2 linked regions of the Homo sapiens genome follow. Changing the gene in region 1 together with any one later gene gives a genetic interaction. Each region holds a gene or a part of one and is shown on either strand. Other genes may lie near its edges.

Region 1 (7,004 bases):
AGGGCCTTCCCCCAGCCCGCGAGTCCATGCTCACTCAGGCCACTCGCCTAGATTCCCAGGCCCCTGATCCTAGGGAGCCAAAAGGGTTAGGGAGGTGGCTAGATCTGGGGACTCCTCCTAATACTCAGGCCTCTAAGGAAAGGGCTGTCTGGGGGCACCTTCCTGTAGCCCTAAGGCCTGGGGCCTCCAGGGAAGGTTACCACAGAAACAGGGGGAAAATATTACAAGGAAACACAATACCCGGCAGGGTCACCTGCTGACCGGGCTTCCTGCTGTGTTGCCCACCCCCAGCTCACTGCTCTCACAGCCTCCTTCTCCAGCCTTGGCCTGGGCCTCCTCACCAAGGCTCTCCTTCCTGCCTCCCCAGAGCTGGGAGAAGCAGTCTTAAGCAGAAACTCTGCCCCTCCGTGGTTCCAAACAACAACATCGAGGATGGCCCAGAGCTGAGCCCCCCACTCCTAATCCTTACCAACCCCTCCTCACCATCACCACAGGAAATCAAAGCTTCCTGCCCCAAAGGAAGTGCCCCATCTAGTGAACAAATCCAACACACACAAATGCACAGTCCTGGGAGCCTCCGGGAGGACAGATGCCCTCCCGCTAGCCCCAGACTTTATTCAGGCCCTGCTTCCAGCAATACCCCACACCCCACTGGAGGCCTCAGTCCGAAGTCTAACTGAGGGCAGGCCAGGGAGAGCCAAGCTGTGGAGGGTGGGCCAGCAGAATGGGCACTGGCAGAGTGAGAAGGCCTGGTTCTGGCCCCCTCCGCCTGCCATTCCCTGGCTGTGTGACCCTGGGCCTTGCATTAGCTCACCTTCTCTCAGGCCCCTGCCGACTTCAAAATTACCAGCCCTTAATGAAAGGCCAGGAGAAAGAAGGCAAAGAGGAGATGGGGTTCCACAGGCTTCTGTCTTCCAAGTCCTTGGGCATGCTTGCCCACAGCTACCAGAGGGTCCCCACTCCCTACCCCATCACACATGAGTTTCTCTCTTGCTCAAGGGTTTTATATCAGAATTGAGAAAGTTCCAGCTTCCATGCCAAGAGGCCACCAAGGACTAAAGCTGAGGTCCATTATCCCTAAGCAAACTGGAGGGGGTGGATAATAGCACAGTACCTTCATTCTCCTCTCCATAGTCAACCTCTTCTGCTCTGCTCTGAGAAGTGTGCTTGGAATTTTCTCCCCATTTTACTGATGGGGAAACTGAACTTCAGTGTCAAAGTGGAGTGAACAGCTTAGACATGCAAACTTCCCTGCCCCAAAACCCACTGTAAGACCCGGTGGCCACAGAGACACCCGCCGAATAAGGGACACAGAGGCCTCTGGAGAACACTGCACCAGGACCATTCCAGGTGCAACATCAGGAGGCAGCTCTGAGCTTGCCTCTGAGCCTGGCCCTGCTGGGCAAGGAGGGACATCAGGGGACTAAAGGCAGAGGACCAGTCCCAATAGGTCCAAGACCTGGTTCCAGTCTAGGTTCACTGGGCTGGGTACCACTCACTGGGACTACTCTGTGCCTTAGTTTCCCTCAGAAATGACTGCAGAGAAGAAGAAAATGACTTAATAACCCATGGGTAGCGGCAGCCTAGCAGCCTATGGAGTCCTGGGAGGGGGAAAGGGCCGCCAAAGCGTCTCATTGGAGGGCAGGGACCTGAGTCACAGTCTCCTGCCAGCCCTATAGCTGAATAGGGGTCCTGAGGAAGGTCCCACAGGTCCAGATGCAAGTCCAGGGAACAGGCTGAGAAGTTGATCTTGAGCTCCCAGCAGGGCCGCTGAGGGCCGATGCCCCATTCTCACCCTAGAAAGCGGCAGGCAGAGCTGGGCCTCAGGCAGATGTTGCCTAGGGGAGTGGGCAGGGAGCGTTGGCAGCGAGACAGCCAGTGTCCAGATGCAGGGGGAGGCCTTTGGGTGCGCAAGACAGCCAGCGGGGAGAAGGAGTGAGGAGCAGCCGTGGCTGGGGAGGTCAGACCCAAACGGGCAGCCACAGCGGGAAGCAATGGGGGTGGGGCACTGGGTGGCCTGCGGGCCCCAGAGGGCTCTCTCCTGGCCCACAGGCCTAGAAACTCTGGTCGTGGGAACCCAGCCCATCCGCCAAATTTGCCGCCTGCTCTCACACTCCCCAACACCAACAGACCCCAGGCCTGGGGGGTGCACATCCTGTCCCCCACCCCTCACACAGCCTGCGGCGCCCCGCTTCCCGCGCCGCTGCCGGCATTGACCTCCACAGCTCACCAGGGCACAGGTGTCTCTTCACCCTGATGGGTGAGCAAGGATGGGGGGCAATGCTCAGAGAAACCTCCCAGCCAGAGACCCCTCCAAGGGACCTCTTTCCCCGCCGAAGGATCTGAGTAGGGCCCTGCCCGGCTCCACGGGATGGGGGCGCTGATGTCCAGCCCCACAAAGCCCAGCCCCAACTCAGTGGGTCCTGCCCTTTGCCCTCGCGCTTCCAAACCTTCCGCCCCGGAGCACCGCCCCCTCGCCGGGCCACCGCGGCCGTCCCTCCCTCCCCGGTCCCTCGGCTCGTCCTCCCCGGGAACAGGGGTGATGGGACGTGGGGCCCGCACACCGGCGGCCGGGGCCTCCAACTCCCTCCCTTGGGCCTGTAGCTGCCCCGGGGCGGGCGGATGTGGGCGCCCCGCGGGAGGCCCGAGCCCTCCGGCCCCCGGAACCAGCTCCGACCCGGAGCCTGCCAGAGCCCCGCGGAGCCGGGCGGGACAGGCGCGGTCGGGGGGCGCAAGCCGGGCTGGGCCCGCGGGGCTGGCGGGAGCCCGAGCCGGAGCCGGAGCCGGAGCCGGGGCCAGGGCCGGAGGCCGAGCCTGGGCGGGCGACGCTGGGTGCCGCGCGCAGGGCGGGGCGGGGGGCGGCCGCCCAGTACTCACCAGCGCCGGGGCTGTGCATCCAGGGGCCGGGGCCCTCAGAGCGGGGGGCTCATGGCGGGGCGGGGGGCTGGGGCGCCGGCCTCACATCCCCCCAGTCGCCGGAGGCTGCAGAGCGACTGTGAGACGGCGAGAGGAAGGGAGGGGGCCGGGAGGGGGAGGGCCCTGGCAGCCCGGCCGGCCGGGTAGGATGACAATGGAAGGAAATGCTTTATCTGAGTCTGAGAGCGGGCCAAGGGGGAGGGGAGGGAGGGGGCAGGCGCTCGCGGCCCTGGGACACACCACCCCGGCAGACACTGCACCGCGCGGCGCACAGGCGGGCCGCAGACACCGCGCGCGGCCAGATCGCGGCGGGGCGCGGCGCACTGCCGGGGAGGCAGCGCCGAACCCGGAACGCCGGCCGCGGCTCCGAGCCCCAGCCGCCGCGAGGCGCTCCGAGCCGTGCACAATTCCCGGAAACCCAGCTACCTGGGCGCACGCACCCTCGCATACACAACGTACACGAGCACGCATCCATGTTTACAAGGGGCAGAATCATTTACACAGCACACACTGGGGCTTCGGGGTGGACCCCCGTGCACACACTACATACCCGTACAGCCCACAAGCACGCAGCCACACGCGGGCACAGTGGGACACGCGTGGTGTCCCATGTCCCATACAAGGAATCCCAGACGGACACCCCCCACCACACACACACACACATAAGCACGACTTGCCTCAGGAAAGTTCCAGGATCTGATTTGAATCACTGCCCAGCCCTCCCCCACTGGCACCCCCACACACACACCATGCCTGCTGAGGGGAACGGAAGGGTCCAGCCTGTTCCTATTAAAAGAAAAAGGGTGTGGGGGTGGTGCAGATTTTGAAAGTTTTCTTTTTTTAAAGAAATTTCTCAAGGGACTTCCTTCCCTCCTCTCCTCTTCCTCTCTTCCTCCCATTCCTCTCCCTCCACAACCCCCCTCTTTCCCCCTCCCGGTCCCTATGAGTCAAACTTCAGCAATGTGCCCAGTGTCCCCCAGTGCATTACAGCGGATCACAGAAATGTTCCAGTCTGTGAGTCGGAATGCAGCCGCCTCCAGCCCTCCCTCAGCTAATAAACTCAGCTCAGGGCCGGCTTTAGGCAGTGGCCCTCCCTGCCTCTCCCTCCGCTTTTAGCTGGAGAGAAGGTCAGATTCAGGGGTCAGGGGCTAAGGACCTCGCCATTGTGCTTCCTGGGCTAGCCGGTCAGCCGTGTCTGCCTCCAGCAATCTGGAGCTGCTCCTAGGAAGGGGAGAGGTCCACCACGCAGGAACACTGGGCTCTCTGCAGCGTGAGGCGCCACCATTGTAAACCAAGGAGCAGCTTCCCCTGACCCCATTCTATCTCCCGCAATCCTAAGAAACCCCAAGAATCCAGAGAAGGAAAAATTGAGGCAGCCCCAGAGGTGGAGTCATGTCTGATTGGAAGCAAGAGCCCACAGTGGCCTAGGAGGGCTTGGCCATGCTGGCGGTGAACTTCAAACCATAGATTCTATTCCCTTCCCTCAGGCACAGCTCGGGACTCACTATCTGTTGCTACCGGCATATTCAGCGTGGGACTTCTTACTTCAGCCCCTTTCCTTGTCCCAGTTCTCCTTCGGCAGGCAGATCCAACCCCTCTGCGCTTGTTAACTTACCCTCCCAAAAGCCTTTCCTGGCATTCAAGTCCTCCTACAACCTGGCACCACACTCCATACACATCCCTGCCCAGTGCCTCCTGGTACTTAGGGCTCAGTAGTGTTAGTCACTATTATTACTATCATTATTTCTGCCAGACTGGGCTGCTAGCTGCTTCCCATCCTGTCCTCACGCTTCCACACTCCCTTGCCTTCGCTCATCATGCTGCCTCCAAAAGAAATGTCCTCCCAGCCCCTTTCTCCTTCTGTTGAAATCTTTCCAATCCTCAAGACCCACTCCCTATCTAGTGGGAGGGAGGGAGGGAGGGAAGGAAGGAAGGAAGGAAGGAAGGACTGGAAGAAAAAGAAAGTGGCATACCACTTTCTCCGGGAGGCTTTCCCGGATTCCCATAGCCAAGAGGAATTCTTCCCTGAACTGTGTGGTCTTTATACATTGACCTTCGCCCACCTAGTCTACTTGTCTCAACTCTCTTCCTTCCAAGAGCATTCAAGAGTGGATATCCCTGAGTCCAGCTACTGCCTTGGTCATGGGTGCATTTCTTGTAGTGTCTTGCACAGAATTCAAACTTGATGTGAGTTATTTGTTGAATTGGGACAGATGTTCATGACTTTCAAGAACCCTTCTCCAGCTGGACACCTACAGTACATTCTTTCACCCCATAACTACCCATGCTGACTCTCCAAGACACATGCTGTTCCACCTTAGGTATGTCATCCCCAGCCCTCAATTCCAAGCCAGATCATCCTCCTTCCAAATGCCTCTTTGGTGTCCACAGACTCCAGAAAAACTGCTTGGTTACTGCAGACCCCCAGCGACATGCCTGCTATCTCCCTTGTCTAGCTCCACAATTGATCCCAACCCCCAACACACACATATCCGTAGCTTTTCTGTAGCTATTTCTGTAGTAAAGCCAGGCCCTTTTATGCTCATTTCTACCATGTGCATTGTGCATACATTTATTTGTGAGTCTTCTTTCTCTTTTTAAACTCATCACTGAGTTTTGAGTGATCTGAATTAAGAGGCTATCTCCCTGCCTGTCTGTCCACACAGTGCCCAACATGTGGCTTTCTACACACCAGGACTCACTGCCTCCAACATATAGTCAGAGAAAAAGACAGCATGTGCAACCTGCATCTGGGAAAGCTGGACTGTGTCTCTCCTTCCCCTGCCAGATTTACTTACCAGACCCCGCCTCATGGCAGAGTCCTAAGCCAGTTTCTAAGTCACATGTCCCCTACCAGGATAAATTAGAAAGCCTCCAAGAACCTTAGAGACATGAGACAGAGAAATGCAAGCTACCTCTCTCTCTTCTAGCCTGGTTACCGTGGGGAGCCTTTTTTTAAAAAGCTCTTGAGTCCAGGCCTCTCATAGCTTTCTCAGCTGAACACCTAGCAGAAGAGACTGGCCCCAAAAGACGTGCCTTGGCTTCCTGAGCCTTCCCTAGAGTCTCCGGCCAGCACAAAGCCTGAGGGCACCCCAATCTGCTTCCCTTTGGGACTCTGGGCCTACTTGACCTTCTCTTCTCCTTTTCCTCTCCTTCTTTCCTTAGTTAGCTACTGTTTACCATTTACTGCGTAGCAGTCCTTGCTATCCCCTGGACAAACATTAGATCATTTATTCTTAACAATAATCCTTGTTATGCTCATGAGTAAAGCATGGCCTTTATGGTTAAGAAACCTGATCAAAGTTGCACAACTAGTAAGTGACAGGGCCATTCATTCATTCAACAAATATTATTGGGTGCCTACTTTGTGCCAGGATTTAAAGCCCCAGAAAATTATCCAAACTTTCTGATACCCTCCGTTCCCAACCTTCTAGATGTGGGGGCCATAGCCACAATTCCTCCGCCAGCCTGCACTTATCCTCACACACTTCGCACAAAGCCAACCAGAAAGTGCTCCTTCCCCAAGGCCTCAGTTCAGTGAGATCTCAGTGGACACTCATTGTATTGGGTTAGTTTGGATCTTGCATTTCAGTTTCTGGATCTGGAATCAAATGCCAATTCTCAGGGTTTGGGACTTGCAGATTAGTAAGGGAGATTAGGTCCCCAACTCCAAATAAAGGGTTTCATGGGACCAGACATAAGAGATATAAGAAGTACGGGAAGGAAAGAAGAAAGGAAGGAAGAAAAGGAAAAAAAGGAAGAAGGGAGAAAGGAAGGAAAGAAGAAAGGAAGGAAGAAAAGGAAAAAAAGGAAGGAAGGAAGGAAAGGAAGGAGGGAGGGAAGGAGAGAGGGAAGGAGAGAGGGAAGGAAGGAGTGGAAGAAAAAGAAGGAAGGAAAGATAATTTAGGATTTATTGAGCATGTTCTACATATCGCACGCTGTTCAAAGCCCTTTCACTTAAATCTCATTATTATCCCCATTGTTTCCATGAGCAAAGTAAAACTCAGAAAGACAAAATGATCTGCCCAAGGCCACAGAGCCAGTAAGTTACTTAATCCCAAGTATGTCTGATTCAGAGCCTGTGCAAT
Region 2 (8,000 bases), on another chromosome or scaffold:
GAAATGATCAAGGGTTAAATTGTAGTAAAATCAGATAGGTCAAGGTATTCTCCAACTTGATATTTTCCAATCAAAACCAAGGAGCCAATATCACCCCTTCCTCTTTCCACAAGTATTCCTGAGAGCTGCCTCTGTGCCAGGCAACATGGCACGCATGAAGGAACACCGTTGGTCGGCACAACCAGGCGTGTTCCCTGCCCCTGCGAAGTATTCACAACAGCAAGAACACTAAACCCACACATGTGAAAACTGCTGGGACGGGTCCATGGTGCCACGGAGCCTAGAGTGGGAGATGGGATTACTTGGAGGTCAGGAATTGGAGCTTAACAAGAAGAGGGGAGGCAAGGGCCATGGTGCTGAGTCATTCTTAATTGGGGAGTCCTTTTGAAAAGACATTTGTGTTCAAAGCCTGAGTGATAAATTTGGCTAGTTCAAATGAAAACTAAATACATTCCAAGGATACATGTAAGTGCACTGATTTGTCTCCAAATTGATAACTGGGCATTATGCCAACAAGTTCAATGATATTCTGGATGTCATTTAAGTGATTTTTTAAAAGGAGGTTGTTTGGTTGCTTCAAGACGGTTGGCAACTTGGAAAGAGGAAAAGGATAAGGTTATGGAAGACGGAAAAAGAGAATGGAAGGAATATTTTTAAATAAACAAATTCAAGTTTACTGGGAAGGGATTAAATCCCATATTTCAGGGTGAACAGTTAGTAAGATCTGAAGGAGTATAAAAGCCGGGGCGGTGGGGGGAATGTCACCCAACTGCAAGTTTTTAGCAATTATACCTTAAAATTATTTTCATCGCTAGACTCTGACCACTGGTTACAGAGCCACTTTGACAGTAGCTGGCATCAAAACATTATGTGCATACAGTAAGTATTAAAATGCGACTTGAATCTCAAAAGGACAGTACATTCCTCAGGCCAGAAGCTTAAGCATCTCTTAGAAAAACCTACATAGCACAGAGACACAGTTAGTACTTAATATCTAGGGACCATGGATTTTACAAGTAGTTATGAATCAAAGACTGGCGGTAAAAACTATATTATTAACAGCAGTCTCTCAGCCCAAAAGAGACTAGGGCAGCTAAGGAGGTCAAGGCAATTAGGTCATGGTTGTAGGTTCCTTTTTTTTTTTTTTTTTGCATATTGTAAACATCTACACCTCCTGCGATAACTCACGTACTCTATCCTCAAATTTGACATACCGCAAATTTAACTATTAAACATGGTTATCCACATCTTTCTACAAGGTATCACAAGGGTACCTTTGTGATACAAGGGTATCACAAAATCAGTAGAGTGAAGCCTTGCTAATGAACACATGCGCTGGAAAATAGATCTAAAATACCACGACCAGAACAAGCCACAGTCTTGGCGGCTGTCCTGGCCCACAAGAAATATTCCAGCCTTGAAGACTGAAGCCGATAAAATGCAGTCGTTTCAGCACTGCGTCCAGGGAAGAGTACCCGGAATGCTCGTTACACTGACCCCATCCTTTGAGAACTTCTAGCCACTCTAGCGTGTGTTTGGCCAACTGAGTCTGCAGGCAAAGCGCTGAGCGAACGCGAGGGCGCTGGCTGGTTTGCGAAACCTGTCATTCCTTCTGGAAACGCAGCGCCTGCCCAGGTTTTTCCTGGCTCTGAGCGAGCTACACCCCAGGCTTTCTCTGCCTCGGGAAGGCGGTGCCTGCTCGGGCCGCTGCCGCAGGAGGACTGGGTACCAAACCCGCTCGCTCCAGGCACCGCTGGCATCCAGGGCGGTACGCGACGGGGAACCCGAGGGTGGCTGGGCTCCCCGGCGGGCTCCACCACGAGTCCTGGCCTCACAGCTGACTTTCCGCATCTCGGAGCTCCGGAGGCCCGGCCCGGGGTCCATTCTCCACGGATCCCCCTCCGCGCAGCTCCTCCGCCTCGGGCTGCATGGCTCCCACCGGAAGAGTGCGCAGAAAGGCTCAGCCGCCGTGGGCAGGGCGCGGGTTTTATTATTGCGCATGGCGCAGTCGCCTCCCCTGGAGACCCGCGACAAAGATGCAAGCCCCCCGCCGCGCTCGCCGCTGCTCTGGCCCCGCCCCGGCGCGAAAGACCCTGAAAAGCCTCCAAAGAGGGGTTCGCACTCCTGAGTTTGCAGATGCGGCTGGATGGGCTGGGAAGTTCTCTCGGCGGAAATCGGAGGGACCCCCCCACCCCCACCCCCACCCCCAAAGACCCGCGCCTCCCGGCGCAGGTGGCCCGGCACGCCCGTACCTTGGTGGCGGGGTCCGAGGCAGCGATGGCGGGGTCCGCGGTGGTGTCTGGCGCCGCCTCGGCCGAGGGGCCGCCGCCGCTGGGCTCGGGCTCAGCCGGCGTGGAGCTCCCCTCGGGCGGCTGCTCCGGGCTGCGCTGCTCGGTGGAGCTCCCGGCGCCCATGGCTCCTCCGCACTTCTCCCGCGCCTAGCCGCCGGGTTACGCCTTCCCCAAGCCGCAGGGACAGGGGCAAGAGCCAAAAGACGCGCGCCCGCGAGGTCCCGAGAGCGCCTTCCTTCGCCGCCAGCCGACTGCGAACGCGCCCAGCCTGCGAATGAAGGAGACGCGCTCGCGGCAAACTCCTTAAAAGAAAAGGAAAAAAAAAAAAAGGCCACCTCTTAGCCTCCGCCCCCCTCCCCCCGGTTTTTCCCTCGCTTCATCACATGAGCACAGCCCCAGACACGCCCTGCAGCAGCATCTGCCCCCAGGCTGCCGGGACCAGAGGCGCTGCGACGCGCCAGCCCAGGTCCAGGCAGCCGCCCACCCGGCCCTCGGGCGCCTCCCGTTTCTAACAGGGCGACTAGAGCTGCGGGGACGACCCAGGGCCTCAGAAGGCAAGAGAGCAGGGGAGCAAAAAGCCTGCCGGGGACACTGGATTCTCTGGGGTTTATTAAATGATGGATCACCCAAGGCAGGAGCTTCTGCTGCAGCCGACTTTCAGCTCGCCCAGGAGCGAGTCCGAGTCCCCATTTGCTTTCCTGCAGATTGTGTTTAACTCCAAACATTTGTTCCAGCCTCCTCCCCATTAGCAGGAGAAAGGCAAGCGCTCCCTGGCTCCTCCTGAGTCCGACCATATTTGGGCACCTCACGTGGCAAGAGCAGGGAACCGAGAGGTTAACGCAGTCAGGCCACGGATGAGGTGGGCCACGCAGGCCCACGCTCTCCTATCCTCCGGAACAAGTGATGTCAGGCGATGCCATCAGCAGTGCTAGCCGCCCCCCTTCCCCCGGGGAACGGGGGGAAATGAGGCTGTTACCGGAAATGTGCCCGTCCTTCTTTGAGGGCCTGTGCTGGAAGTTACCCATCCAGGCCACCTCTGCTCCGCGCGATGCCGACACATGACAGCATAGATCTGTTCCTTTGCCGTCAGCCTTTCTCAAAAGATGAAGACTTTAAATAATACCAGCACAAGTGGCTTGCATCCTTTCATTTCCGACCCTTGAATATAATATGTATTACATGAGCATGGCAGCCAATCAATAAGTATTTGAACTAAATTAAATTTGTAGCTGGATTGCTTGGCGCAAAGCATTAAGGCTTTGGGGCTGAAAGACAAAATTTATTCCAGTTGTAACTAGCAACCGAGTGCCCCAGTTTTCACAAATACTTTGAATCTCCATTAAGAATGAAGAAACCAGCCTGGTTAACATAGCGAGACCTTGTCTCTACAAAAAATAAAAAAATTAGCCAGGCGCAGTGGTGCACCTGTAGTCCTAGCTACTCAGGAGGCTGGGGACGCTGGGGTAGAAGGATGACTTCAGCCCAGGAATTCGAGGCTGCAGTGAGCTATGACTGTGCCTCTGCACTCCATCCTAGTCGACAGAGCAAGATTCTGTCAAAAAAAAAAAAGAAAGAAAGAAGGAAGAAACTTTCGGAATATTCACACCAAATTCCAGATAAATATCTCATACTCAGATTTAGTACAATTTTGTAGAAAGGGTGTAAGCAGTAGTTCAGCACTAGGATGTTTCATGCCTAATGAATTGCATGAATCGAATGGTACCCTGGGAACCATAGGTTAGTTACTCACCATCAAATTTGTTTTCTGAATTAATTTTTTTTCTTTTTCTTTTTTTGAGACAAGGTCTCGCTGTGTTGCCCAGGCTAGTGTTGAACTCCTGAGCTCAAGCGATCCTCCTGCCTTGGCCTCTCAAAGTGCTGGGATTATAGGTGTGAACCACCACACTGGGCCTGTTTTCTGAATTAATTATTTTTATTTAAAGGACTACACGAAGGCCAATTTCTCTGGAGTTTATCTCTTAAGAAACAGTATATTTGCAAAATGCTTAGTTTTAGGAATTTATACACATTTCCCCCATTTTGACTTAAATTTTGACTATTTAGGAAACATTAGAATTCTTACTCTGTACCAGGCACTGTTCAATGCACTTTACATAATAATCTTTACAATAACCCCATGGGATAGATAGTATTATTCTCATTTTACCATTGGCAGGAGGGGGAGGAGTAGGCCCGGAGAAATTAAATTGTGTGCTTCAGGTTTCACAGCCAGGAGTTGGAAGAGCAGGAAGTCCAACTGGCATCTGCTTTCAGGGTCCACGCTTCACCACCGCATGGCACTCCCCTTCCCTTTCAATCAACTGTGTTCTCTCCTCTCAGAGGTGTTACTGAAACGTGGCATTTGGACCTCACTTAGGATTTTAAGAGCAAAAAGCACTGTTAAAACCTACTTGAGGCCAGGTGTGGTGGCTTACACCTGTAATCCCAGCACTTTGGGAGGCCGAGGTGGGTGGATCACCTGAGGACAGTAGTTCAAGACCAGCCTGGGCAACATGGTGAAACCCCGTCTCTACTAAAAGTACAAAAATTAGCCAGGCATGGTGGCGCGTGTCTGTAATCCCAGCTACTCAGGAGGCCAAGACACGAGAACTGCTTGAACCTGGGAGGTGGAGGTTGCAGTGAGCTGAGATCATGCCATTGCACGCCAGCCTGGATGACAGATTAAGACTCCGTCCCAAAAAAAAAAAAAGAAGAAGAAAAAAAAAACTATTTGAGAATGATTAACGTCAGCACATTTGAAAATGTATCAGTAAGTAGCACAAATACTATCAACATTTTCACATTCTGTGAGATTATATTTACTTTGTTCCTGGGAAATTCTTAGCAAAGCTTTTCACATCTACTACCCTTTAAATTTTCAGAAAGGATTGCAGGGTCAAGCCAACAGTGTACAACCTACGTGCTGAGGAAGATATCAGCATCTGCTTAGATTAGCAGTTACTTGCTTTTTGTTTATTTTCCAGGCCATGTAAATGTTCATACTCTTATTTGTAAAAAGTAAAATCATTGCGCTGGGCGCGGTGGCTCACGCCTGTAATCCCAGCACTTTGGGAGGTTGAAGTGGAAGGATTGCTTGACACCAGGGGTTCAAGACCAGCCTGGGCAACACAGTGAAACTCCCATCTCTACAAAAAATAAAAAAAAATTTAGCCAGGAGTGGTGGTGCATGCCTGTAGTCCTAGCTACTTGGGAGGCTGAGGCGGGAGGATCACTTGAGCCCAGGAGTTCCAGACTGCAGCCTGGATGACATAGTGAGACCCTGTCTCAAAAAAAAAAAAGAGAAGAAAAGAAAAGTGGTTGTGTTATTAATGACCTCTAGCGATGAAATAGCCCAACCTTTTGGGTATGCCACTTAGTGCTTCAGAATGCTACAAAGTTTGTTACTTTTTTTACTTTTCTTTCTTTCTTTCTTTTTCTTTCTTTCCTTCTTCTCTGTTCTTTCTTTCTTTTTCTTTCTTTCCTTCTTCTCTTTCTTTCTTTCAATAAATTTCTATCAAGTACCTATTATGTGCCAAGCACAAAGTTACCACTCTAGTTTCCAAGGTTCTAAATCGAGTCACTGAGGTTTTCTTTTCTAGGGCTTCCAAGATGCCTTCGGAATTGCTTGGATTGGCATCAGAGTAGAGGGGAGGCAGGTGTTCTCTATTTTTCACTTCTCAGTCCAAGGCTGTTGGTTCAATGTCTCACCAGCAGCTCAATTTTTCTCCAAATAGCAGGATGCAGGTGTCCCCACACATCCTCTCCCATGGGGCAGTCGTTGGTAGAGCTGTTTCCCTGAGAGGGTTAATTCTCTCATAAACACAGTTTGAGATTTCTCAAAAACAAATACATGTTGCCTGTGTAGCAGGCTGAACCTGTACTTCGCACACATACTTCTCCAGAAAGACGGGTCACATGAGGTTTAACAATAAAATGTAGAGTCATAGTTGGGCACCTTGTGCATGCACCAAAACAGTTTCAAATATAACATTAAAGGAATTCACAAATGTCAAACATTTTACAACTGAGTTCAGACACCCCCTTCAAAGTGCAATAATAATTTTAATTATTAAAACAGTTTAAAATCTACCGTTAACTCTACCCTAAAGATTCATTCTCTAGTTACAAAGCCTTCGCTGAGACTGGCAACTCTTCACCTTCACCTTTGAAACTGCTTCTCTCTTGATTATAACTTCTTTGTTTTCCCTGGATAAAACACCTACTTCTTTCTAAACCAGTTGTTCCCACAGAGATATCCAGTCATCTAAGAACCTAATTCCCACTCTATCTTGTGCTCGTGTGAATTTGTTATTCTTAATACTCCCTTATCACAGAGCTGTTTCAGGCAGAATAGAGAGTACTAGAATGTGCGCATGCATCTCTTAAGATATGATTTTACTTTTTACAAATAAGAATATTAACATTTACATGGCCTGGAAAATAAATAACCAAGAATAATGTTATTACCCTGTTGAGAAGTCTATGGAAGAAACTGTGAGTAAATTATTTGAATTTTACTTTCTATGTGAGGATTTGAGACGGATTATTTTAGAGCATTAATTATAATTTGCTAATTATAAACTAGAAGAATTAACAGTTGTATTCAATTCATGAGTACTTAATAATCTAAAATTCATATGGAAGCTACAGAAAATGTTCAATTTACAGATGAAGTTTAAAGCTCAGCCGCTTGTAGACATACATCACGTATATATATATAGGCAAATGCTATCCTTGTAACTCTTAAGGAATTTATTGCTTTGGAGTTAAGTATAAAGCCAGCTATTTGGATCTCAGTTTCATTTACCAAGGTTTAAGATTGGTGCCTGACTCAAATTCAGGATTACTCTCAAGTAACAAAGGAGGGACTGGAACCAAGATAGAGTAAATGATGTGTCCAATATGGAGAAAGAATTTCTCAGGATGCACTGTTAGAAGATACCAGAAGGTATGTGGAAGGTGTCTACATTCCAGGGTAGATCAAGTGGCTGTAATCCTCACAATTTCAAATCCCTTCTACAAAGGACCCTATAAGTATCCAACATTAAAATATATATTTTTCACATATTAATTAAATAAACTTTCACTGAGTTGAGTGCCAGGCAAAATGCAGAGGACTTTTCAAAGTTGGAAACTTTGCTTCAATAAGTCAACATTGCGCACTCAAAACAAAGCTATTATACAATATATTATACGATGTGAACTGTAGATTTTATGTTCCTCTACCAACTTAAATCCCTTTGTGGCCTGGTGCGGTGGCTCACATCTATAATCCCAGCACTTTGGGAGGCGGAGGCGGGTGGATCACCTGAGGTCAGGAGTTTGAGACCAGCCTGGCCAACATGGTGAAACCCCGTCTCTACTTTAAAAAGATACAAAAATTAGCCAAGCGTGGTGGTGTGCGCCTGTAATCCCAGCTACTTGGGAGGCTGAGGCAGGAGAATTGCTTGAACCTGGGAGATGGAGGTTGCAGTGAGCCAAGATCGCGCCACTGCACTCCAGCCTGGGCGAAAGAGTAAGACTCTGTCTCAAAAAAAATAAAAAAGAAAAAAAGATTAGGTTGTGAATTGATAAACATCTCAACTAGCAATACACAAAGGAAAGGTGGATAACCTGATCTAATGTTTATTTTGTATTCCTTTAAGTTAGCTTGCTAAATGCTTTTAAAATCATAACAATAGCAATAAACCTATATAAACATGCCCAAAT

What was found.
Region 2: of HDAC7 (region 1) and AKAP12, a change in one rescues a mutant of the other (synthetic rescue), as found in Homo sapiens cells (one study listed by BioGRID).

What each region holds. Positions count from the first base shown.
Region 1 is NC_000012.12:47,816,890-47,823,893, forward strand, and holds the start of HDAC7 (histone deacetylase 7), read right to left. Parts: upstream 3,015-7,004; 5' UTR 2,897-3,014; coding exon 2,878-2,896; intron 1-2,877. UniProt on the Homo sapiens protein: Responsible for the deacetylation of lysine residues on the N-terminal part of the core histones (H2A, H2B, H3 and H4).
Region 2 is NC_000006.12:151,234,977-151,242,976, reverse strand, and holds the start of AKAP12 (A-kinase anchor protein 12), read right to left. Parts: upstream 3,011-8,000; 5' UTR 2,918-3,010; intron 2,594-2,917; 5' UTR 2,415-2,593; coding exon 2,253-2,414; intron 1-2,252. UniProt on the Homo sapiens protein: Anchoring protein that mediates the subcellular compartmentation of protein kinase A (PKA) and protein kinase C (PKC).